Homo sapiens: one gene and its partners. The protein of the gene in region 2 interacts with the protein of the main gene of each other region in a pairwise test. Each region holds a gene or a part of one and is shown on either strand. Other genes may lie near its edges.

Region 1 (3,557 bases), on a different chromosome or scaffold from region 2:
GGTGAAACCTCGTCTCTACTAAAAATACAAAAATTAGCTGGGTGTGGTGCGCTACTGTAATCCCAGCTACTTCGGAGGCTGAGGCACAAGAATCACTTGAACCTGGGAGGCCGAGGTTGCAGTGAGCCAAGAACACACCACTGCATTCCAGCCTGGGCAGCAGAGTGAGACTCCATCTCAAAAATATATATATTTATTTGTTTGTATGTATGTATGTATGTATGTATGTGTGTGTGTATTTTTTTTCCAAAATAAACACTTAAGGAAATGTCTTACTTTTTAAAAACCTTCCAAACTGTCCCTAGACCCATGTGAAACCCTAAGTCATTTAAAAGAGAGGACTACATGTCAGGTTAGGTCCCCCAAAACATCTTTAAGTGCCTATAATGTGTGCTACACACTGAGAATTCAAATTAAAGATACGGTTTTTTCTTACAGTTCTACAGTCTTCCTTTGGCTTAAAGACTCCTGGAAATACAGACATGAGTAAGAGACAACACTAGATTTATTAAAGATCATAATGCTATCATTTATTGAAGAAAGAAAGCAAAAAAAACTAACAATTGTGATGGGGGAGGAGAGACAGCTTGGCAACATTCCTTTTAAAGTTAAGTTAGCATAAAGAAAACAATATTTAGTAAATGAAATAGATTTTCAAGGTAGGAAAAGTAGTACTCAAGAATGTATTTTTGGATACAAAAATTCAGTTACACAATCAGTAGCATTCAAAATTAGTTATGAGTATTTATACAATTACAAAAATGGATTCATGTTTTAACAACGTATTTTAAAAGCTCAAACATTTTAAAACAGGCACAATATTCTAAAGGCATATGCATTCACCATGGGCTTTTGAATGTCCTCACTCCCAACTTCACAATCAAAATCTACAGAAGCGGCAAAAGATCAGAGTTCAGAGGGCTATTTTTTTTTTCCCTTTCCTTACTTAAGGTTGCAAACACATTGACAGAGGCAAAATAAACACGTTTCATAGCAGAAAGACCAAAAAATTGAATGTAAACCATAGCTCTCCCTTGGGAGATTACACAAATACAAGGTTCATCTGTACTTAGAACAAGGCTCATAACTTCTTGTAGCATGGACATTCAACAGGCACAGAGCAACAACATTCACCCAAATACCAGCTGCAATTTGTCCTTTAAGGATGCCTCACAAGGATATTATGTCCAGGTAGCTAGTCCATTTATATCGGGGACCAGTTGTCCTTTTGTTGTTTGTGGCTGTTTATTAAATGTAGTGGCACAACTTTGTTGTGAATATGTACCATCATTTGCTACAATCTAGACAGATCATCCTGTCTACAAAAAATCATTTTCTACATTTCTAAGACCATTATCAGTTTATCTGCTCCTGCTAGAAAAGGACATACTTTTTGTCAATTTACATTAACAAAGGCTCTGCTACTCCCCATTTACTCGCTGCAATGAAAACTGGTAAGCCAAGGGTAAAGCTTAAGTATCAGGGACTATGAATTTAGGGTAGAAGTGAAAATAACCAAAGTGGAACTAAATCCCCTATTCTTGAGTGCAACTGAGATCAAGTAAACTTCGCTGGACTTTCTTCTTAACTATAAAACTATTAACCAGAAGGTAAAGTCACACAATTTTACCTCCCAACAAACTTTTAAAATAAAAATTTCCAAAAAATTTAGATGTCTAGGTTTTGTTATATCTTACCAAGAGTTACACAGACATAAATTTGTATTTAACTTCAGTTAAACATCTATTCACTTTTTAAAAATGCTGTCTGCAAATAAACTACTGGACATCTTAAGCTTACTAAAAAAAACTTAAGATTTTTAAATTAAAAAAAAAAAACTAGGACAAAAATCTAGCAAATGGTTTCACGTACCTTTAAACACTGATTCTTAAAAATTTATATGCTGAAAATGAGGTTTGAGAATACGTATTTTAAACCATTTATAATCCTACCGTCGACTCTAGTCAGAAGTTATCTGAGCAAAGAGAAAATAAAGCCTGGCGTAGACAGTCCCATAGAAAATAGAATCCATAGCCACTGGGCTGCCCTTCAATTTCCCAATTCATTCCACTAAGTCTCATGATGCAAATCTGTCACTTTCATAGAGCTATCAAAAACAGAAGCCAAGCCAGATCCTCCACACTTTAAGATATGGTTCCTTATTATCTATTTTAACAGAAGTATCAAAAAGTGATTTTTTTTTTTATTTATTTTTGAGACAGAGTCTCACTCTGTTGCTCAGGCTGGAGTGCAGGGGTGCGATCTCGGCTCACTGAACTTCCACCTCCTGGGTTCAAGCAATTCTTGTGCCTCAGCCTCCCTCCCAAGTAGCTGGGATTATAGGCGCACACCAGCTAGCCTGGCTGATTTTTTTGCTGTTGTATTTTTTGTAGAGATGGGGTTTTGCCATGTTGGCCAGGCTGGTCTTGAACTCCTGACCTCAAGCGATCCACCCACCTCAGCCTCCCAAAGTGCTCAGATTACAGGTGTGAGCCACTGCACCCAGCCAAAAGGTAATTTTATTTGGAATGCATTTCATGATTTTATTTCTTGCTCCCTGAGCCTGCAGTGATTAGGGTGGAAGGGAAGTGGCACTCAGGCAGATAATTCACAAAGTCACCACACAAGGGTGATAGATGATCCACCACTGAGATAATCAACCCAGTGAAAATGCTACACTGGGGACCATGTTTTGCCCTTCCCAGACAAGACATCTTGAGCTAGGATCTGAGCTACGGCTATGCAGAGGAGCAGAACTGAAGGCTCCGTTTGAGCCCTTTCTGCAAAAGGGGATGCATTTCAGATAATGAGACAAGAGACGGGAGTGAGTTAGTACACAGCACGCCCAATACCCAACAAGCAGCCTCAGAGAGACTGGGAGAAGGGGGAGAGGGGACTGGAAGCCATCTCTTCTGTTCTGAAGGGCAGTGCTCCTCCCAAGACAGCACTCAGAGAGCCAACAGCCCAGGGCAGATCACGCCAGGACAGTGCTTCCATATGGCTGGCTGAGCACCATATTCCAATCTGCAAAAGAGTCACCTTATTGGTTCCCTTAACTTCCAAAATGCAGCAAGCCCTCCTTCACCCAGCAGTGAACGGAAGGGAAGGGAATGCAGGGCAGCAGGGAGACAGAGACCATCATTAACTACAGGTCTGAAACCCTAATTCTTTACTCACTCATCAGGTTGCTTTTAATCACTGCTGTTGCTTGGTAACAGGTTTCAGCAGATTTGAAATGGATTTCTTCCTCCCACAGTCTAACAAAAACAAGTAGGGAAACAACCAAAGAATAAGGCAACTTAAGGAAAAACGCAGGAAGACCCTGGGAGGCAGGGTCATGCAAAAGCTGCCAATGGTGTCCTGATGGGAGCTGTCTGAGCAAACTGGCCACAGGCCGTGAGTGAAAGCAAAGCAGAAGCCTTTCTACAAGACCCATCTCCTGCCAAGAACCCCTCCCTGACGCCTCCACTCGTGGGGTCTGGGATAGGCTCTTTACCTTCTCAGAGGATGGAGGCAATACCATTCACTGGGCAGTCACTGTGAATATTGAATGAGAT
Region 2 (7,039 bases):
ACAAACTGTTAACTATATGTCTCTTCAAAAGTTTCTTACTTGATTGACTAAAAAAGAGCATGCCATAATTATCAAGAAATATTTTTGAAACAGCTATGAAAAAAACATGAGAGCAGTGGGCAAATAAGAGGGGAAAAAAGCCACTGGTGTACTCTATACACACTTTTTAAGTCCTTGAGAATATTCAAGGGTTAGCACAATTTCCTATCTTAGTAACAAATATATGAACTTTAGAAAGAATGATGTATTTCAAACAAAATCCCTTAGTACATTAATAAAGATCAGATTAAAAACAGTGAAACATTTACCTTCCCACTCAAACTCATTACTATTCTCTGACGGTGTGTCTAAGCCATCTAAGTCAATCTCCCCACTTTCATCCAAATCATCTGACAATACAGAGCCATCACTAGGATCCAGTGTCAGGCTAATGTCTGGAGCCATTAGTTTCTTTCTCACTTTATTTCCATTAACTTCTAGTGAGCCTGGAATTGGAAAATAAAGAAAAAGATACGTAACAAGGAATGCTTAGATGCTAAAGTTGAATAAGAAAAATTTTAACTACCCCATTCTTGGGAAAAAATAATATTAATTGAACATAATTTCAAAGCACCTATTCACAAAATTTTTATTCTGATCATTATTGCTTCTACATCGTTGGCAAGAGATCAATAAAGTATCAATGTCTTTTAAATAGAGGCAGACCTTATAGATACCTCTTACCACTAAAAATGATCTCCTCCACCCCTTTACTGTAAAACTTTCCAAAAACCAAGTGTATGTTTTTGGAATTTTTTTTAAAGCATTCTAAAAATGCTTTCCTCAATGTTCAACTTATACTTTGACTTCTATGATGGAATAAAAACTCAAGTTTTTTTTTTTTTTGGACAAAGAAACGTGTTTTAAAAAATAACACAAAGTCCATAATTTCAATGAAAGTAAGTGTCAAGCTCTTACCAGGCTGGTCCTCTGGTCCAGTTATAGCTAGTATATCTGCTTCAATACTATCATCTTCTGGTAAAGGTCTAGAAGACACAGGCATACTTTTTAATCCAGAAATTAAGAAAGAATTTTTTTTTGAAGTTCAATCTATTAAACATACAGCTTATAGAAATAATTATTTGGAAAATGGAATAAAGCAGTGTTGTTGTTTTTGAGACAGGGTCTTGCTGTCTGTCACCTAGGCTGGAATACAATGGCACAATCATGGCTCACTGCAGCCTTAACTCCTGGGCTCAAGAGATCCTCCCGAGTATCTAAGACTACAGGTGCGTGCCACGACGCTTGGCTAATTTTTAGTAGAGACAGGGTCTTGCTATGTTACCCAGGCTGGCCTTGAACTTTTGGGCTCAAACGATTCTCGTGCATTGACCTCCCTAAGTGTTGGGATTACAGGCATGAGCCACTGTGCCCAGCCTAGCAGTGTTTAAGATAAAGTCTCAGCCTTCTGAGTAGCTAGGACTACAGTGGCACACCAACATGCCCAGCTAATTTTAAAAGTTTTTTTGGTAGAGACCGGATATTGCTATGTTGCCCAGGCTGGTCTCAAGCAATCCTTCTGCCTCGGCCTCCCAAAGCACTAGGATTATAGGCGTGACGTGCTATGCCTGGCTACACTTTCAAAGTAAAAATTCTGACTGTCAGAGCTGACTTATACACTTATTATATATAAGTAACACATAAAAGTAGATATAAATTCCTTATGCAACAGCTCTTATACAATTATAAAACATGTAACAATTTTAAACAAATATGACTGAAATGCACAAATATAATGTGATGTATGATGCAATGTATGAAGCTCAATTTTTACTCACGAGACTACAGTAACAATGGTTCAATTCTTCTGAGATCAGCATTCCTATATTTACTATCACCACCATATGCAACAGTGACTCAGGTCTCCGATCAGCTGTCCAACTGCTAAGCTATCCAACTGCTAAGGCACCTGATTATGCACTAGGATGTCTTCTGACAAGTACGGCACGGAAGCACTATTTAAACTTAAGGTCTGCCTTTGCTCTCTTTTTCATTAGCCTACCTGGTGCCAATATAATTGTAAATACAAATGCAAACATGTCAAGGTGGCTGGCCAGATAAGCTAGAAAATCCTTATTAATTTACTTAGTAAGGTTTTTTTTTTTTTGGTGGGGGGGAACCCACAAATTTTTTTTTTTTTTTTTGAGATAGAGCCTTGCTCGGTCGCCCAAGCTGGAGTGCAGCAGCGCGACCTTGGCTCACGGCAACCCCTGCCTCCTGGGTTCAGGTGATTCTTGTGCCTCTGCCTCCTAAGCAGCTGGGACTACAGGCGAGCGCCAAGCCTGGCTAATTTTTTGTATTTTTAGTAGAGACGGGGTTTCACCATGTTGGCCACGTTGGTCTCAAACTCCTGGCCTCAAGTGATCTGCCTATCTCGGCCTCCCAAAGTGCTGGGGTTACAGGCGTGAGCCACCGCACCTGGCCACAAAATTAAAGAAACATTTTAAAGACAACTAAAGACCTCCTTCTCTGAGGAATCCCTCAGATCTTGTTTAAATGAAAACAAAAACAAAACAAAACAAACAAACCACACTAAAACACTTTATTATAAAAGCAAAAATTTGCAAACTTAAGTGACCAAAACAAAAATGAAAGATTATAGAAGATTATATATATACTTGGTTGGAAAGTAAGATACAAGAGAATCAATCTAACTGTTCCGAAGAAACTTTACTTCCTAGTATCAAATGATCGCCTTGTATTACTGAGTTTCTCAGTGACATCTCAGCTGTGCAGTGGCTCACACCTGTAATCCCAGCACTTTGGGAGGCCAAGGCAGGCAGATCACGAGGTCAGGAGTTTGAGACCAGCCTGGCCAATATGGTGAAACACCGTCTCTATTAAAAATACAAAAATTAGCCAGGCGTGGTGGCGCACACCTATAGTCCCAGCTACCTGGGAGGTGGAGGCAGAAGAATTGCTTGAATCCAGGAGGCGGAGGTTGCAGTGAGCTGAGATCGCGCCACTGCACTCCAGCCTGGGCAACAGAGCAAGACTCCGTCTCAAAAAAAAAAAAAGTAACATCTCGATAAAGAAATTTTGAACTTTTGCTCTAAAATTGTTTTCTTTTAAAAGCATTGCTCACATCGGAAAATCTTCATCTTGCCATTCTTCTTTAAGTTCCACACCTTCCATCCTCAGCCTGGATTCAATGTCAACTACAAACTCTTGATAATCCAGGGAGCCAATGTCCTATGAAGAGAGAAAAATGTATAACTTAATTTCCACTTTACTTTTTATCCACTGAAAAGGCGTAATAATCTTATATATTAGTTCATACTTGATGTTTAGTACAATGGTCTGGTCATGAAATTCATTTACAGGGTTGCAATTTTTTTTTTTTTTTAAAGAAAAGAGAATACTCAGACTACATATATTCTGGGAAAGTTAAATACTGTTTATAGTAAGGATACTGTTCAGTGAAAATACTTGTTTTCAGTTGCATGTATAGTATCTCAGGTTATGATTGAAAATATATTTCATACTATGGATTATATTAAAAAATTTGAAGTGGGGTAAGAAATAAAAATGTTCTTTATTACAGACTCATAATTAAATTTTCTGTCCCTTGGATAGAGGTTGATTCTAGACCGTAAATAATAGTAAATCAATAATATTTAAACTCATGATTCAGCAGAGTCAGGTGGTGTGCTGTCTTTCATATTTCCTTCTCAATAGTTTGATGCCACAATTCCTGAGCCACTTAAAGAAGTCTATTCAATAACTTGTCCCGTAAATGAATTATGCAATCTTTTGATTTGTTTCATATCTATACTATGCCCTTCTCATATAGCTCGGCATATGTTTTCAAACACTGAACTTGGTGAATGCCCTTTTATGCAACTACGTATTTTAACATATGCCATGAACTTTAGTTTTAGTTTTTCCAAGGAATCACGTGAGTCCAATATCCTCATTTTAAAAGTAAGAAATCTAGAGATACTCCCTCTGGTGATGGAGTAAGAAATAGAAGTTGAGGTAAGGTAAAGATCAACTGGTTAACAATGCAACAAAACAGTGAAAACTATAGAAGGAAAGAGGTATACACGAGTATTTAGTTCATTTACATTCAAGTCAATAGATGTCTAAAGTTATTCAACAAACAGCAGTAACATATTTCTGTTCTTTTCTTTTCTTTTTGCAGTAACATATTTAAGAGATACGGAGCATCACTAGCAGTACTAAAAATAAAGTTAAAAGTCGTTGACACTAGGCCGGGCGCGGTGGCTCACGCCTGTAATCCTAGCACTTTGGGAGGCCGAGGTGGGCGGATCACTTGAGGTCAGGAGTTCAAAACCAGCCTGGCCAACACGGTGAAACCCAGTCTCTACTAAAAATACAAAAACATTAGCCGGATGTGGTGGCAGGCGCCTGTAATCCCAGCTACTTGGGAGGCTGAGGCAGGAGAATCGCTTGAACCTGGGAGGTGGAGGTTGCAGCGAGCCGAGGTCACACCATTGCACTCCAGTCTGGGTGACAGAGCAAAACCAGTAGCAGAGGAAAGAGGGTGAAATGCAGAAAATGACTAATGCTTTTCATAGTAAGTCCGTCTATACCATTTGATTTTTAAAACAATACTATCTGTGACTTTAAAAGATATTTATTAAATAAAATCAATTATGTCAGCCATTCACATCAACCAGTCTTCTAAAAGAAAAATGTGGTCATGTCCTATAGCTATCTTATCTGCTACGTCAACATTCAAAAGATGCACAAAGTTACAAAGAAAAAAGCCTTATGTTCCGTAATGACAAAATTACAATGGAAATATCCTGAAGTGTTAGATTTCACAAGGTAAACTAAATTTGTATCTCTGCCAAGGCTGGAAGACTCTCTTCCCAGTTTGAATTTTTACTTACCCTCAAGAGAAGGTTTTAAACATTCCCAAAAGGTTTCAATGTTTGATGATACACTTGTTACCACAGAAAAAAAATGGTAGATGCTGACTTTTCCACACCAACTTATTTGCTTGAAAAAGTCATTTACATATAGGAGTAAGGTTTTTAATTCTCTGGGAAAACAATGATCTAGGCAGTTTTTATAAGTTAATGAAAAACATTTAAAATAATCTTTACTTATTTAGCACTTTCTCTGTTGGGAGGGAAAAATAAACAAAAAGAGGGACACCTACCTTACCAAACAATCCCCTCTGTTTAGAACAGAAATAGTAGAAAGGAGCCCACAATTACAATCAACAAGCCCAAATGGTGAAAATACTTACTACTCTAGAATTACAATGCTCAAGTGAGACCAAAGCATGCTATGACTAAAGGCTGAAAACTGGTAAGTCTTTTCTAGATGTTTAATTTACTGTATTTCCCAATGTTTAACTTTTCTTAAGTCTTTGGTACTCACTCTAAAGCGAATGATGTATTTTCCTAAATTCAATAATCAGAAAAGCTTTCTATTATCTTGTCGTACCTTTTTATTGTGTGTTGAAAAACACACCAGGATGTTGTCTGGGTGTCTTTTTCAAATATCTCAAATACTCAGAAAAATATTTAGCATTTCAAAAATAAAAGCAGAAACTGAAAGTTGTACCCAATATATTCCCAACACCTACCATGGTGCCTAGCACATAACAGGCCTATAAAAATTAAGTAAATAATACTTACCTGTAGGGTATGGACACTGGTCAGCAAACCTTTGCTCAATCTCTTAGGCTTATTTTGCTTATTAAACTACATGAATAGGATTTGTCATGTGTTACCCCATAAAAATGTAACAAAAATATTCTGTGGGAAACTACACACCAGCAATATTAATTTCTATTTGTAAAATTGTTCCTCACTGGTAAGAGGAAAGGTTTATCTTGGGAAATTCTAGAAGACAATCCATTCCTTTCAGCTGCTTAACCAATGGAACAAGTTTGTCTCTGTGAAAACAGCTCCTTGAGGCCGGACGTGGTGGCTCACACCTGTAATCCCAGCACTTTGGGAGGCTGAGGTGGGCGGATCACCTGAGGTCAGGAGTTTGAGACCAGCCTGACCAAGATGGTGATACCCCGTTTCCACAAAAAATACAAAAAATCAGCCAGGCGTGGTGGCGCCTGCCTGTAATCCCAGCTACTATGGAGGCTAAGGCAGGAGAATCGCTGGAACCCCAGAGGTGAAGGTTGCAGTGAGCTGAGATTGCACCACTGCACTACAGCCTGGGTGACAAAGGGAGACTCTGTCTCAAAAAACAAAACAAAACAAACAACAACAAAAACTAAATAGCTCCTCGAAACACAGGCAGCCCAAGTCTTTCAGCTATCTCAGCCTATTTATTCCATTTTTACCTTAATATCATATTGAATCATGTGTTAATACCTCAGCACATAGACATGGATATTTAGTTTGAGGATAATCAATTATCTAGTTAAACAGAACTTGGGGAGAGAGATATAGATAGATTTACTCTACCATTTCATCATGAATTTTAGGGGAAAAGTACACTAGGTAGATCAAAACAATTTAAACAATTGAGGGAGTACTGTTTCTTGGAAGCACTTTATCATCAAACAGCTGTTAAGAACAGGAAACAAACAAGAAAGGAGTTAATATAACCACAACCTCTTCGAAGAAAATCAGGATACTGCTGACTCACAAGTTAACTGTTGTTGCTTCCCATTTCTTGTTCATGTATTTTTTTTTGGAAATTAGAATGGGAAATAACACTTTAAGATGATATTTGTTAAAATAACCTGTTGGCACAGGAATAACTTGATTTCTCAATAGATTGACTCTTGGTAGTGGTGGCACATCCTTATGCCACTTACTTGTTGCAGTCATAAAGATAAATTCAAAACAGTTGTTGACCTTAGGTTAAAAATCAAAGAGATAATTGATTCCTTCTGACATAGCTTCAAGGGGGAGGAGTACTGGTAAATCCAACCAGGATGAAGCAGCTTTCCCCAGGCAGTTTAGCAACATAAGCAAAAATTAAATGTTAAGATCACATTTAGGCCAGGCTCAGTGGCTCACTCCTGTAATCCTAACACCTTTGGAGGACAAGGTGG
Region 3 (7,039 bases), on a different chromosome or scaffold from region 2:
GGATCAAGTCCAGTCTCCTAACCCTGGCTTAGAAGGGTTAGGAGATCTTGGTGATCTAGTCTCTGGCCACCACCTTGTTCTTTGCATTCCACCATGCTATTTTTTTCAGCTCCTTCAAGTGCTCTCTAGCTTCAGGGCTTCTCTGCCTGCGGTCCCCTTTGCCTGGAAAACTCTCTCTTCAGCTCTGTGTCTGGCTAGTTCCTATTCATCTTTCAGGCCTCAAGATAAATGTCATAGGTTCAATATTTTTAGGCCATCTTTGACTTCTTTCCCTTTCCAAACAAACAAACAAACAAACAAACAAACAAACAAAAAACTTCTCCTATCCGTCTTCCTGCCTCTGTCCCCATTGCTACTGCTATGGTCCAGGACTTGATTTTTTTCTAGTCTGGACTGCAGCCTTTTGTCTGCCCTTCAGCTATGGGTTTCTTCCCCTCCAATCCATTTCCCACACCTCTGCCAGAAATTTTTAAAAAGCACAATCACATAATGTTGTTTGCTTCCTCCAAAACCATCAATATTTTCCAACTGCTGACAGAATAAAGTCTGAACACATTGGCTTGGTATTCAAGGCCCTCACTGGCCTAGCCCCACGTGTCTTCCTAGCCTCATCTCTCAGTAGCCGTACTCACATTCCTTATGCTGCAGCCTAGTATTTCTCAAAGTGTTTCGTAGCCTAGTGTTCCCATGCCCTGTAGGGACATTAGATGATCCAAGGTGGTGTATGGATAAAAAGTTATTTTAATGCATAGAGAATAAAAGCAAATTCATGGTAGCGATATAAAATTTCCTGTTAAAATACATTAATTTAGGCTACAGAGATGACTTAATTTGAAGGAAAAGTATGTTAAGTAATAATAGCATAGGTGGTACACAGCTGTGGAAAGAGCCAGAAGATGGGACACAAATGGCTAAAGTATGGGAAACGGGCCCGACCACCTTTGTCTACTTCCCATTCCCTCAACTCACCATGTAATTCACATTTCTGTGCCTTTGATGATACTGTTCCCTTATTTTTATTACTCTCTTTCCAACTTTCTGCTTATCAAAATTCTCTCAGGCTTTATGGTTTAGCTCAAATGACACTTCCTTGTGATATCTTTGCTCATCTCCCGGTCAGAATTGAGGACTCCCTCTTCTGCACACTCCCAAGACATTACTCGTGCTTCTTTCTGGTTCTGGTTCATTTTGTTTGATGGTGTAATTAGTACCTCATATGTCTGTCTCTCTCCCTATCAGACAGTAAGTTTGGCCTTTAGCACAGTGCCAAACACAGAGAGATAGCTTATGATAAATGTTCATTACATTGAATTATAGTAAAGGAAGAAGTTCAATTTCACAATTCTCCAAGTTGCAGGTGAAAGTTAATAGGAAGAGAAACCGTATTCCAAACAAGGAAAGGCTATCTGAAGTTATAAGGTGTGCATGTGTGTGTAAGGATATAGGCAACGAGTTATTTCCAGTGTAAGGTGAAAACCTATAATTCTTATGGGTGAAAACATTATGTTTCATGTTTCGGGGCAATGACCTAAATCTGAATGTTGGCAATGCTTGCCTAATCTAGTCAGTTGGCTCAATGCCTTCAGAAATTTAAAAAAAAAAAACAAAAAAACAAAACAAAAAAAAAACAAAAGTAGTTTGTCAAAGAGGAATTTCTGTGGCTTTGTGATTACTTGTTGGATCCAAATAAACTATAAATATAAGAACTTGTAGGAGTGACAGGTAATTTAATAATTCAGTAAACATTGATGAGCCTACCTCATATGAAATCTCTATGTTAAAAGCCATGGGGACAGGGTTGGGAACTGGAAAGGGGAGGGTGAAAGGAGTAAATATGGAAATGATGAAAATAATGCAAGCATGGTCCTTGATACCATGTATTGACCATTTGTTGTGAAACAGCACTCTGTTCAGCACTTAATGTATATTATCTCATTTAATGTTCTTGCAGTCCTCATAGGTGGATAATTTTATTATCTCGTTTTACAGATGAAGAAACTAAGAATCAGAGAGATCATGTATCTTTACTCCAAGCTGTAGGAAAAAAAGTAGATAGCATTCATTATGTGCCAATAACTATTTTAAGTACCTCATGTGTATTAACTCACATTAATACGTGTGGAAAACAAAATTCCTGTCTTGGAGAAGCTCTGGGTTTCTTGTGAAAGATAAGGTTCAAAGTTGAATTTTGGAGGAAAGGTAGGATTTTTGTCAGATGGATTGGTAGAGGAAGGGTCCTCCATGCACAAAGAAGAGCCTGAACAAAGTCCAGGAGATGGGAGAGTCCAAGGCCTGGGAGTAACATCATTACCTGCAAAAACACAGGCAGCCTAAGGAAGCCGTGGTACAGGAGATGAAGCTGGGAAGGAAACTGGAGAGATTAGGCCTGATGCTGAAGGAAATGAATAGCCAGTAAAGGTTAGTAAGCAGAGAGCAGAAGAGTAGCATGATCGTGTCTGTTTCAGGAAGATAATCTGGAATAACTGTGAGAGCAAGAGAAACTATAGGCAAAGAGATCAGCTAAGAGTTTTGGCATTCAGATGAAAGCCAATGGGAACCTGAAATAGGCTACTATTTCACATACCAATTTGAAAGTCACCAAGGAGGTAGAATTTTTCAGCCCAACGCAGCTGAGTTGATGCTGGGGTGATGGAAGGGGATTAATGAAAGATGCCGTGATGGGGTATGTGGGAATGCTGGGAATGCATCAAAGTCTAGGCCAGGCATGGTGGCTCACTCCTGTAATGCCAGCATTTTGGGAGGCCAGGGCAGGAGGATCCCTGGAGTCCAGGAGTTCGAGACCAACCCAGGCAACATAGTGAGACCTCGTCTCTACAAAAAAATTTAAAAATTAACCAAGCATGGTGGTGCACACTTGTAGTCCCAGATACTCGGGAAGCTGAGGCAAGAGGATCGCTTGAACCCAGGAGTTCGAGGCTGCAGTGAGTTATGATCATACCACTGCACTCCAGCCTCAGCCTGGGAGACAGAGCAAGACTCTGTCTCCAAAAAAAAAGAAAGAAAATAAGAAAAAGAAAAAGCCTGTATCTGCTTTAGTTATCATTATTCTTCCTGAAGATGTAATAAAGTCAGTGTCTAAGGTGTCTGCCTCAGAGGAGTGGTTGTCACTCCTCTCTTGATCAAGTGGCAAGATTGACAAGGTTGGTAGTATCTTATCAGGTGTGGTGGTTGGGCTCCAAGTAGTCAATTTCGGTAGTTAAAAGGAAGAAAATTAACATGTATTGAGGATTTTCTCACCTCAAAGATCTCTGGAACAGTCTTGAGAGGCAGGTACTATGCTGTTTCTGTTATGGTACAGGGTGAATGACTTACTTGCTCAAGGTCACATAGAAAATAACAGAGACTCACTTGCATAAGGTCTCATAGCAAGTAAGTGACAGAACTGGTCTGAAGACTATGTTCTATTTTTATTTATTTATTTTGAGACAGGATCTCACTCTGTCACCCAGGCTAGAGTGCAATAGCGTGATCACAACTCACTCTAACCTTTACCTCTTAGGCTCAAAGGAGCCCCCCATTTCAGCCTGCACAATAGCTAGGACCACAGGCATGCACCACCATGCCTGGCTAATTTTTTGATTTTTTTTTTTTTCTGTAGAGATGGAGTCTCACTGTGTTGCCCAAGCTGGTCTCAAACTCCCAGGCTCGAGCGATCCTCCCACCTCGGCCTCCAAAAATATTTGGATTACAGGCATGAGCCACTGCACCCAACCTGTTCTATTTTTTACAGTACCAGAAACCAGAGAAAGAGGGCAGGCCCACACACCCAAAAAGGATGTCCAAGGGAGAGAAAAAAGAATAAGAGTGAATTTAAAGATTTCTGCTGAGGAAGAAGAAATCTGGAAGACCTTCAAGTTAGTGTCAAGCTTGGTCTTGCATGAAATATAATAATGATAAGAAAGGGCTCCTGTTCTCATGGAGCTTATTGGGTAGAGGGCACCAAAGATATAATGGCTGCTACCCAGCCATTCTTACAAAATGCTCTAGACTTTCAGAGGCGATATAGTCTTGGGTTGTCTGGAAAATGTTACAGAGAAGATATGACTTGAGTAATATCTAAAAGGAGGCGCTGTCCCTGGATAGTCCAGGAAGAGCTATCATGCCATCTTTCCACTGGCAGGAGTAGTGGGAGTAGTGGGAGCAGAGGTGAAGGAGTGGGAGAGTACATTTCCTGTTTGTTTAGTGAATAGATTGCCTGGAACGCAAGGCAATCACGTAGGGAAGAGTAGGAGGACGAGCTGGCAAGGGGTTAACACCAGAGAATGGAGGAGGGCTTTGAATGCCCAGTCTGATACCTTTATACATCATCACTTAGGCAATGGGAAACCACTGACTATTTTTGAGCAGGAGAGGGATGTAATCAAATATGCTTTTGAGGCGGTGGCTCACGCCTGTAATCCCAGCACTTTGGGAGGCTGAGGAGGGCAGATCACCTGAGGTCAGGAGTTCGAGACCAGCCTGGCCAACGTGGCAAAACCCTGTCTCTACTAAAAATACAAAAGAAATGGTCGGGCGCGGTGGCTCACGCCTGTAATCCCAGCACTTTGGGAGGCCGAGGCAGGCGGATCACAAGGTCAGGAGATCGAGACCATCCTGGCTAACACGGTGAAACCCCATCTGTACTAAAAAAATACAAAAAACTTAGCCGGGCATCGTGGCGGGCACCTGTAGTCCCAGCTACTCGGGAGGCTGAGGCAGGAGAATGGCGTGAGCCCGGGAGGCGGAGCTTGCAGTGAGCCGAGATCGCGCCACTGCACTCCAGCCTGGGCGACAGAGCGAGACTCTGCCTCAAAACAAAAACAAACAAACAAAAAATTAGCTGGGTGTGGTGGCACACACCTGTAATCCCAGCTACTCAGGAGGCTGAGGCAGGTGAATTGCTTGAACCCGGGAGGCAGAGGTTGCAGTGAGCCGAGATTGCCCCACTGCACTCCAGCCTGGGCAACAGAGTAAGACTCCGTCTCAAAAAAAAAAAAAAAAAAAAAAAAAAAAGATGCTTTTGAAAGACCTCCAGAAGTAAGCACTGGAATAGATTGGAGAGGGTGGAGATCAGAGGTTAGACGATCAGGAAAAAGGATATTGAGATAGTTTAGGGGGATGGTGATACAAGCCCGGAAGAGATGAGGGAAAGCCATCCTCTGAATGAAAGCTGGCTCTCAGAGGGGCTGTCAGAGCCACAGCCTAATTTTAAGGACATGAATATTTGTGTTCCAAATCTCCTCCAAGCCATTTTCTCGTTCCTCTCTTCTTGCTTCCTCCTTCCTTCTTGTCCCTCTGCCTTTCCTCCATTTTCTCTATTTCCTCCCCATTACTTCCAGTAATGCTCAGTAATCAGCTATGATTCTGAACATCATTTGGGAAGGAGGGGAAGCACTGAGGGAGGCTCTGAGCAAGATAGAAGGAAGGAAGGAAAGAAGGTGAGAAAGAAAAGGAGGAAGGAAAGATAGGCGAGAAAGAAGAGGAGGAAGGAAGGGAGGAAGGCAGACATTTCTGTAGGAGCATTTCCCATGGACCAGACTGAGAGGATGGGGATACTGAGACTTAGAGGGATTGCAGTACTTGCTTGGAGTCACATAGCTAATTGCCATCTAAGTCTGATGAACTCCAGAACTCATGTCCTGTTTGCCATTCCACGGTGATTCCCTTTCCTGTCTCCCCTGATCTGTTCAACTTATGTAATAATTTCTTATTCCGATACCCTAATATCACTTTGTCATGGCTCTTTCACTCACCACAGTCTGTCTTACATTATAGTGATCTGTGTATATGTCCAGCACTGGCACATAAAATGCGGACAATGATTGAATGAATGATTGGTTTATCTCTGTTACTAGATAGTAAGGAGGCTGCAAGGATCTCACAGCAAGGACAGCCCAAGATCATATCATTAGTATTTAATCTATAACTGTTGGATTGAACATATTTGAATGTCTTAGGCACCTCTGTGGGCATCACGCCCTGTTGGACACTGAAGCTACCTTGGTAACCTTCAAGACCCAGGATTTGTGTTGTAATTTCTAGCATAATCACTAAAAGAACAGAAACAAGATGTATAGCACCTAAACTAGAAGAGAAAGACAAATGGAATGGTAAAGCTAATCAGTCTAAAAGAAGTCAAATCAAATGGCCAACAGGCACATGAAAAGATGCTCAACATTACTGATCATCAGGGAAATGTAAAGCAAAACCACAATGAGATCATCTCACACCCATTGGGATGGCTATTATTTAAAAAACAGAAAATAAGAAGTATAGGTGAGGATGTGGAGAAATTGAAACTCTTGTGCACTGTTGGTGGGAATGTGAAATTGTGCAGCCATTGAGGAAAACAGGATGGCAATTCCAAAAAATAAAAATAAAAACAGAATTACTGTGTGATCCAGGAATTCCATTTCTGGGTATATATCAAAAGCATTGAAAGCAGAGTCTCAAAGAGATGTTTGTACATCTATGTTCATAGCAACATTACTCACAATAGCCAAAACGTCAAGGCAACCTAAATGTCCATCAATAGATGAATGGAAAACAATATGTGGCATATCCACACAAGGCACCGTATAACTCAGCCTTTCAAAGGAAATAAATTCTGACCCATGATACCACATGGTGAGCCTTAAAGCCATTATACTAAGTAAAATAAGCCAATCATGAAAGGACAAACACTGGAATAATAATTCCAATTATATGAGGTACCTAGAATAGGCAAATTCATAGAGACAGAAAGCAGAATGGTGGTTGCCAGGGGCTGGAGGGAGGGGGAATTAGGGAGTTATTGTGTAATGGATACAGAGTTTCAGTTTGGGAAGATAAAATTCTGGAGATGGATGGTGGCCATGCATTGTGAATGTACTTAATGACATGTACTTAGAGCATACTTAGAAATGGTTAAAACGGTAAATTTTATGTTCTAGGTATTGTACCACAATAAAAATAACTTTTAAAAATGAAGGTGAAAAAAAATCCCGTTTATTCTTTATTTTTATTTTTATTTTTTATTTTTTACTTTTTTTGTTTGAGA
Region 4 (7,039 bases), on a different chromosome or scaffold from region 2:
ACTTTAAGTGCTGGTTCAACAGGTTTGGCTTGTATTATTCTTGAGATAGAATCAACAATATATTATTGCAGATATTAAATTTCAGACATAAATTTATTTATTCTACTAATATTTAACAAGCATCATCTATGCACCAGGCTCTGGGCCAGGTGCTTGAGATACAGTGGTAATCAAGATGCAGTAGTTGACCTCATAGAGCCTAGAAATATCTCTTAAGCAGCCGGGCGTGGTGGCTCATGCCTGTAATCCCAGCACTTTGGGAGGCCAAGGTGGGCGGATCACGAGGTCAGGAGTTCGAGACCAGCCTGGCCAACATGGTGAAACCCTGTCTCTACTAAAAATACAAAAATTAGCCGGGCATGGTGGCGGGCGCCTGTAATCCCAGCTACTCCGGAAGCTGGGGCAGGAGAATCGTCTGAACCTGGGAGGCAGAGGTTGCAGTGAGCCAAGATTGCGCCATTGTACTCCAGCCTGGGTGACAGGCAAGATTCCATCTCAAAGGAAAAAAAAAATGTGTGTGTGTGTGTGTGTGTGTATATATATGTATATCTCATAAGCTAATCTTTATAAAACTAATTTCAACCTTTTCTGTTAAAAAAGTAGACCTATGGACTAAGACAACTAATTAAAATTTTAAGAAAAGGACATCCCATAGATGCAGCAAGTAACTCCATGTCTCCAGAATTATCAGCACCTTCCTGTCAAAAGGTTAAAAAACTGACACTGATTACTGAAGTGATAGAGTAATCTGTTAAAGGGAACAACATACTGCTCACTGAAAGAAGAGAAGGCTCTTCAGGTAAATGGAAAGGGTTTTTATAACACACTCTTAGCATCTAAGATCAACAAACCCTTGCTTAACAGGAACTTAGCCATTCTTTATCTCATTTTTCACATGTTCCTATTAATATGGGTTTTACTGCCAAATACTGAATTGACTGATGCTCAGAAGAATCAATGACCTTTAGAGAGGGTGTTGGGGAAAGCAGTTCCCATCAACTAGCCCTGAGTCAGTTTGCTTCTAAGATTTTCCTCCAGTTGCCTGCCAGTTGACATCTGGGTAAAATGCGGAGGGTTGTTGCTCAGAGCTACAGACAGGATTATAAGGCATGGGAAGGTCCAGCTTGGAGTCAGAAGAGCACATGTTACCTCAGGTCTGAAGCTATGTTCAGTACAAAGTATTCAATAGAAAGAACTGTACAGTTACTATCTGGGGACGTGAGAGCTGGGAGAAGAGGAGGAACGTGAAAAATGAGACCAAGAATGGCTAAGTTCCCGTTAAGGAAGGGTTTGTTGATCTTAGTTGCTAACAGTGTGTTATAAAAACCCTTTCCATTTACCTGAAAAGCCTTCTCTTCTTTCAGTGAGCAGTATGTTGTTCCCTTTAAAAGATTACTCTATCACTTCAGTAATCAATGTCAGTTTTTTAAACTCTTGACAGCAATCTCTGCCCAGCTGCTGCTCTTCTCAAAGCGGCTATGTGGCTTGTTACTCACGCTTCAGGTGTCTACCTCACATTAAATATGGACAGATTTGACTTATTAGATATCTGTCAAATGAAGCTAGCATGGCTGGTTACGTTATACTATTTTAAATATTGAAGCGCTATCATATTTATGCAAATATTCTTGGAACTGATTGATAGGGAAGAAGTTTTCAAATTAAATGAATAAGAAAATGCTAATATGAAGAGGACGCATTGGAATTAAGATATTTACCCTGTATAGTTTTTACTCCTAATTTTATCTTTAGTTTGAGAGAGTAATGTATTGGAAAAATTCAATCTAAGAGATCATAAATTCTAAGAGATCACAAGACACTGGTTTAGATAGCTGGGAATAGATTAGCTTACCTTACTCAGTCCTAAGTATGTCACCATGGACATAACTGGTGCTGCCAATGCAAAGACCAGCAAGTGCTTTCTGATTCGATTCCGCTCTAAGCCAGCATGCATCAAGAAGGAAACCAGTCCAAAAGCAGCTGGTGCCTGGAAATAAAAAATCATCTCTTATTATCATTCTAGAAGTATGGGTTGCTTCTACATCAAGAAGTATATGCCATTTGACTATGATTTCTCATACAAAGAAAAACTCACAAAAGGCCAGGCACAGTGGCTAATGCCTGTAATCCTAGCACTTTGGGAGGTCGAGGTGGGTGGATCACCTAAGGTCAGGAGTTCGAGACCAGCCTGGCCAACATGGTGAAACCCCGTCTCTACTAAAAATACAAAAATGTGTGGTGGTGGGCACCTGTAATCCCAGCTACTTGGGAGGCTGAGACAGGAGAATCGCTTGAACCCAGGAGGCGGAGGTTGCAGTGAGCCGAGATCACACCATTGCACTCCAGCCTGGGTGACAAGAGCAAACTCCATCTCAAAAACAAAAAACAAAAAACCCACACACACACAAAAAAAACCAAAAAACAAAACCAGGCAGAGTACAAACGCTGAGCTATGCCTCTTAGGAATTAATGTTCTAAGCCAAGAAAAGATCCTATTTGTGTGTTTCTTGGATAGTAAAAAAGAGAAACAGTCAAGAAAAGAAAAATACTTTTGAACAGAAATTATTACTATGAAATATAAAAATCTGAGGAGAATTTGACAATTTGTGTATATGTCTACACAAAAAAATTGAAACCCCTCAAGGAAAAGCTTAAGAAAATGGGAACAAGAAGCTATGAACAGATTTATTCAATTTTCCAAAATGAATAGCAATTATGAAATGAAGAAAATGTTCCCATTCCAGGAAAAACATTAAGGACCATGAGAAATTTTAATTATGAATACACTCAATACCAAACCTTACACCAAAATGTTGCTTACCTTATGTAGCATGATTGCCACAAACACAATTAACTGGACACTGGTCTGTGAAGTAGATGCTGCTGCTCCCAAAGCAACACCATCAGCTATATTTGGAAACAAGGAAACATAAAATACTATAAACAACAACAACAATAACAGTGTAGTGGTTGAGTGTATGAGCTTTACAGTCAGGTCCAGCTGGATCTAGTAATGTTACTTAACCTTTCTACATGCCAGCCTTATCTTTAAAATGTGTTCAATGAAGTATGTATTTCTTAGGGTTTTCATGAGGATTAAATGAGATAACTTATGTAAAGAGCATAGCATCTGGCCCAGAGTATTCAATGTTAGTTATTTTGGTTGCTGTTGTTGTTATTGGAAAACTAACATTCAATTTTCCAACTAATCAAAAATCCATTGATTAGTTAATCAAATTCTAACAAGGGAAATACCAAAGAAGAATTTCAAAGGAAGCATCTCTTAATCTTATAGGTTAAGAAACAAAATAGTCCCAGCTACTTGGGAGGCTGAGGCAGGAGGATTGCTTAAACCCGGGAGGTGGAGCTTGCAATGAGCCGAATCGTGCCAGTGCACTCCAGCCTCGGCAACAGAGTGAGACTCCGTCTCAAAAAAAGAAATAAATAAAATAAAGATACTAGAACTCTATATAGATGATTACTACTTAATAAGTAAACACTGGTTGAATGAATGAAATTTGTTAGAAAAGCATATTATACTTAGAAAGGGCCAGGTAACAGTGTACCACCTTTCACATGCCTTTCTTTGCCACTGACAGAATTCTATTACTAGGACTAGGTTTGGGTTATGATTCTAAAGTGTACCCTGTCAGCAATGCTAAGATCTCTGCATTCCACTGCATACCACTTCTGCTTAAACTGGTGTTTTGCATATAAACTGGTAACAGAGCTGTTCAGGACAGAAGCGCCAAGGCTCTTTTCCAGATGACATTCTAGAGCCAAGAATGAAAAGAGCAAACTTCTTCTTAAGAGCTAGACAGTAAATATTTGAGGCTTTGCAGTTATTTGGTCTCTTGCAACTGTTCAATTCTGCCACTGTTGCACAAAAACAAAAGAGATGGATCATTGTCATTGTCTATCTCTTCCTCAGCCTCCTGCAACTTTATCTTCATTCTAACATCAGTCACATTTGCCTTTCTCCATTTTTTATTGCCATCACCCTAACCTAAATTTTCATCACTCAAACAAACCTAAATCAGCAATAGGTTCCCTACTCTCATTTTTCCCTAATCAAATTCACTGTCACAAACAATACATAAATACATGGGCAAGGCTGTGTTCCAATAAAACTTCCTTAATTTGAATTATATAATTCTCATGTGCTACAGTATGTTCCTCTCTCTCTTTTTTTTTTTAAACCATTAAAAAGTATAGAAACCATTCTTAGCTTGCAAACCCCTGACACTGAGCACACCAAGCTTGTGCTTGTGTTGGAGGACTTCATTAAGAAACCTTTTCCTCAAAGGCCAGTCCAAGAGCATTCAATGAGGACGGTCCCTGAAATATAAACACTAAGGTCTCCCCTGTGCGATAGAAAACAAAGAAGTTCCACTGCAATCCAACCCTACCTGCAGCATGGACAACCAGACCCAGCGTGGTGGTGATTTTGGAATTGCTAGACCTTGCTGCTTCTGGATCTAAAGTGAAAATGAGAAAGACAGCGTTAAGCTATGTGAGACAGAAACTGTTCAAACATTGGTCTGGAGGTGAAAGAATTTCACTAATGTTGGCCAGGCTGGTCTCAAACTCCTGACCTCCAATGATCCGCCCGCCTCACCCTCCCAAAGTGTTGAGATGATAGGCGTGAGCCACCGCACCCGGCCACTATCTTTTTTCTTTCTGCTTCAAACCCTTAGAAGATTTCCCTGTCCTGAAGAGGTGGCTAAGAGGGAACTCTTCATTTGACTCAGCCCTACCTTAACAGAAAAATCACTGAAATGTGTAACCCCCAATGGCCCCAACTTCCTCCTATTCCTTAATCCTCTTCCTCTACTATTCCAAGGAAAGTGATCTATGGCCTCTGATCATTTCTTTCCAGACCAATCTAATTGTCATTGTCTATCTCTTCCTTAGCATCCTGCAACTTTATCTTCATTCTAACATCTGTCACATTTTTATTGCCATCACCCTAACCTAAATTTTCATCACTCAAACCTAAATTAGCATCAGGTTCCCTACTCTCATTTTTCCCTAATATAATTAATCTTACACATCCGTGTCAGATTCATCGTTTGAAAACACCACCCTTGGCCGGGCACAGTAGCTCACACCTGTAATCCCAGCACTTTGGGAGGCCGAGGCAGGTGGATCACCTGAGGTCAGGAGTTTGAGACCAGCCTGACCAACATGGTGAAACCACGTTTCTACTAAAAAATATAAAAATTAGCTGAGTATGGTGGCGGGCGCCTGTAATCTCGGCTACTTGGGAGCTGAGGCAGGAGAACTGCTTGAACCCAGGAGGCAGAAGTTGCAATGAGCCGAGATTGTGCCATTGCCCTCCAGCCTGGGCAACAAGAGTGAAACTCCGTCTCAAAAACAAACAAACAAAAAACCCACCACCCTTATGATGTGTCAGTTACCATTTAAGAATCTGCTGCTTTTCAAATTCAGGGCAAACTGCTATATTAGATAGGTTCTTAAGCCCTTTATCAACTAGTTCCAACTTATTTCTCAATGTCCAGTCTAGTTAAACCAGTTTGCTTAACACCATCGAACAAAACCTTCTTATTCTCCTTTCCCCAAGTCTCCTCACCTGTAATTCTTGGCACATACTGAACTTCTCAGCTTGTTAAGCCAAAACTTGGACATCAATCAAAGTCTAACTACAGAACCACTTCCCTCAAGAAAGAATAAAAAATTGAAGACTAAGCATGGTGGCTCATGCCTGTAATCTCAGCAGTCTGGGAGGTCGATGGGGGAGGATCACTTGAGGCCAGGAGTTTGAGACCAGCCTGGGCAACATCACAAGACCCTATCTCTACAAAATTTTTAAAATTTAGCCAAGTGTGGTGGTGCATGCCTGTAGTCCCAGGTATCTAGGAGGTTAAGGTGGAAGGATCACTTGTGCCTAGGAGTTTAAGGCTGCAACAAGCTATGCTCATGCCACTGGACTCCAGCCCGGGTGACAGAGCAAGACCTTGTCTCAAGAAAAATTAAAAATAAATTTAAAAAATTGATTCCAGCTCAAAGCAACTCTCCCCTTGCCTAGACCTAGTGATCTATGCAGGCAGTCTTCAAAGGTTCCTCTATACACCACCTCAGATATACAAAGCCATTTTCACTTGAATGTTTTCTATCCCCAGATGGACTGTAAATGCTAAAGCATTAAATTTTCTACCTCTCTTTTCCTTTAACATGTCTGACAGAATGTAGCACAGCACTAGGCACCCAATAGTTACTTAATAAATCCTTGCTGAAGAGTGAAAAAAGCATTTATGTGTATTAAATAAAGATGTTACTGCTCTTGTAGGAAACATACAAGTAAATAAAGTTAAAAGATGGGGACATCAAAATGCCAGGTAAAATGACAGATGAACATCAGTCAAGTAAGTTACAGGGGATTTAATCTTCTTAGGAGTCCAGCATACAAAAGGAAGGGGTTTACAATGGAAAAAGTATACAAGTAAAGTAAGATATTACCTCTTATTAATAAATGATATTTTCCTATTAAAACACTGCAAAGAAGGGAAGCTAAAGACCCTAATCACTCTGCGCCAGCAAATAGCTCAATGCTACCCTGAACTGGAAGGAACAGTCAAATTACACTGTGTGCAAGCTGGCTCTGGCCTTTTTTTATACAAAGGCTTATCATCCAGTTATACTTAGGATCTTAAACAATTAGAGGCTTTAAAATTAGAAAGTTTTTATAAACCTATAAAGACTGCAGTTTAGCATAAATTTAATAAATACATTTTATTGACATTTTATAATACATAAAACTCTGCAGAAAATAGGTAAAACCAGGTCATCAGACACGAAAGCCAGCAAAAATAATGACTTCAGAGATAAAACAGGAAGAAGAATAATGGAACACAAGCTACATTTAACTCTCTGTATAGGATTACTGGCTACTACTGCGCCCACACATTTTATTTTTATTTTTTTAGAGACAGAGTCTTGCTTGTTGCCCAGGCTGGAGTGAAGTGGTGCGATCACAGCTCACTGCAGCCTCGAACTGAAATGATTCTCCCTCGCATCT

Evidence for each region.
Region 1: the proteins of BNIP2 (region 2) and SFT2D2 interact in binary tests that used the Homo sapiens proteins (3 or more experiments, as listed by UniProt).
Region 3: the proteins of BNIP2 (region 2) and DGAT2L6 interact in binary tests that used the Homo sapiens proteins (3 or more experiments, as listed by UniProt).
Region 4: the proteins of BNIP2 (region 2) and SLC39A9 interact in binary tests that used the Homo sapiens proteins (3 or more experiments, as listed by UniProt).

Annotation. Positions count from the first base shown.
Region 1 is NC_000001.11:168,249,973-168,253,529, reverse strand, and holds the end of SFT2D2 (vesicle transport protein SFT2B), read right to left. Parts: 3' UTR 509-3,557; downstream 1-508. UniProt on the Homo sapiens protein: May be involved in fusion of retrograde transport vesicles derived from an endocytic compartment with the Golgi complex.
Region 2 is NC_000015.10:59,679,284-59,686,322, forward strand, and holds part of BNIP2 (BCL2/adenovirus E1B 19 kDa protein-interacting protein 2), read right to left. Parts: intron 3,232-7,039; 5' UTR 3,175-3,231; coding exon 3,125-3,174; intron 1,026-3,124; coding exon 958-1,025; intron 486-957; coding exon 309-485; intron 1-308.
Region 3 is NC_000023.11:70,180,444-70,187,482, reverse strand, and holds part of DGAT2L6 (diacylglycerol O-acyltransferase 2-like protein 6), read right to left. Parts: intron 1-7,039. UniProt on the Homo sapiens protein: Diglyceride acyltransferase that uses fatty acyl-CoA as substrate. Particularly active with oleate as a substrate. Has no wax synthase activity to produce wax esters.
Region 4 is NC_000014.9:69,450,680-69,457,718, reverse strand, and holds part of SLC39A9 (zinc transporter ZIP9), read right to left. Parts: intron 4,479-7,039; coding exon 4,410-4,478; intron 2,908-4,409; coding exon 2,822-2,907; intron 1,988-2,821; coding exon 1,853-1,987; intron 1-1,852. UniProt on the Homo sapiens protein: Transports zinc ions across cell and organelle membranes into the cytoplasm and regulates intracellular zinc homeostasis. Participates in the zinc ions efflux out of the secretory compartments.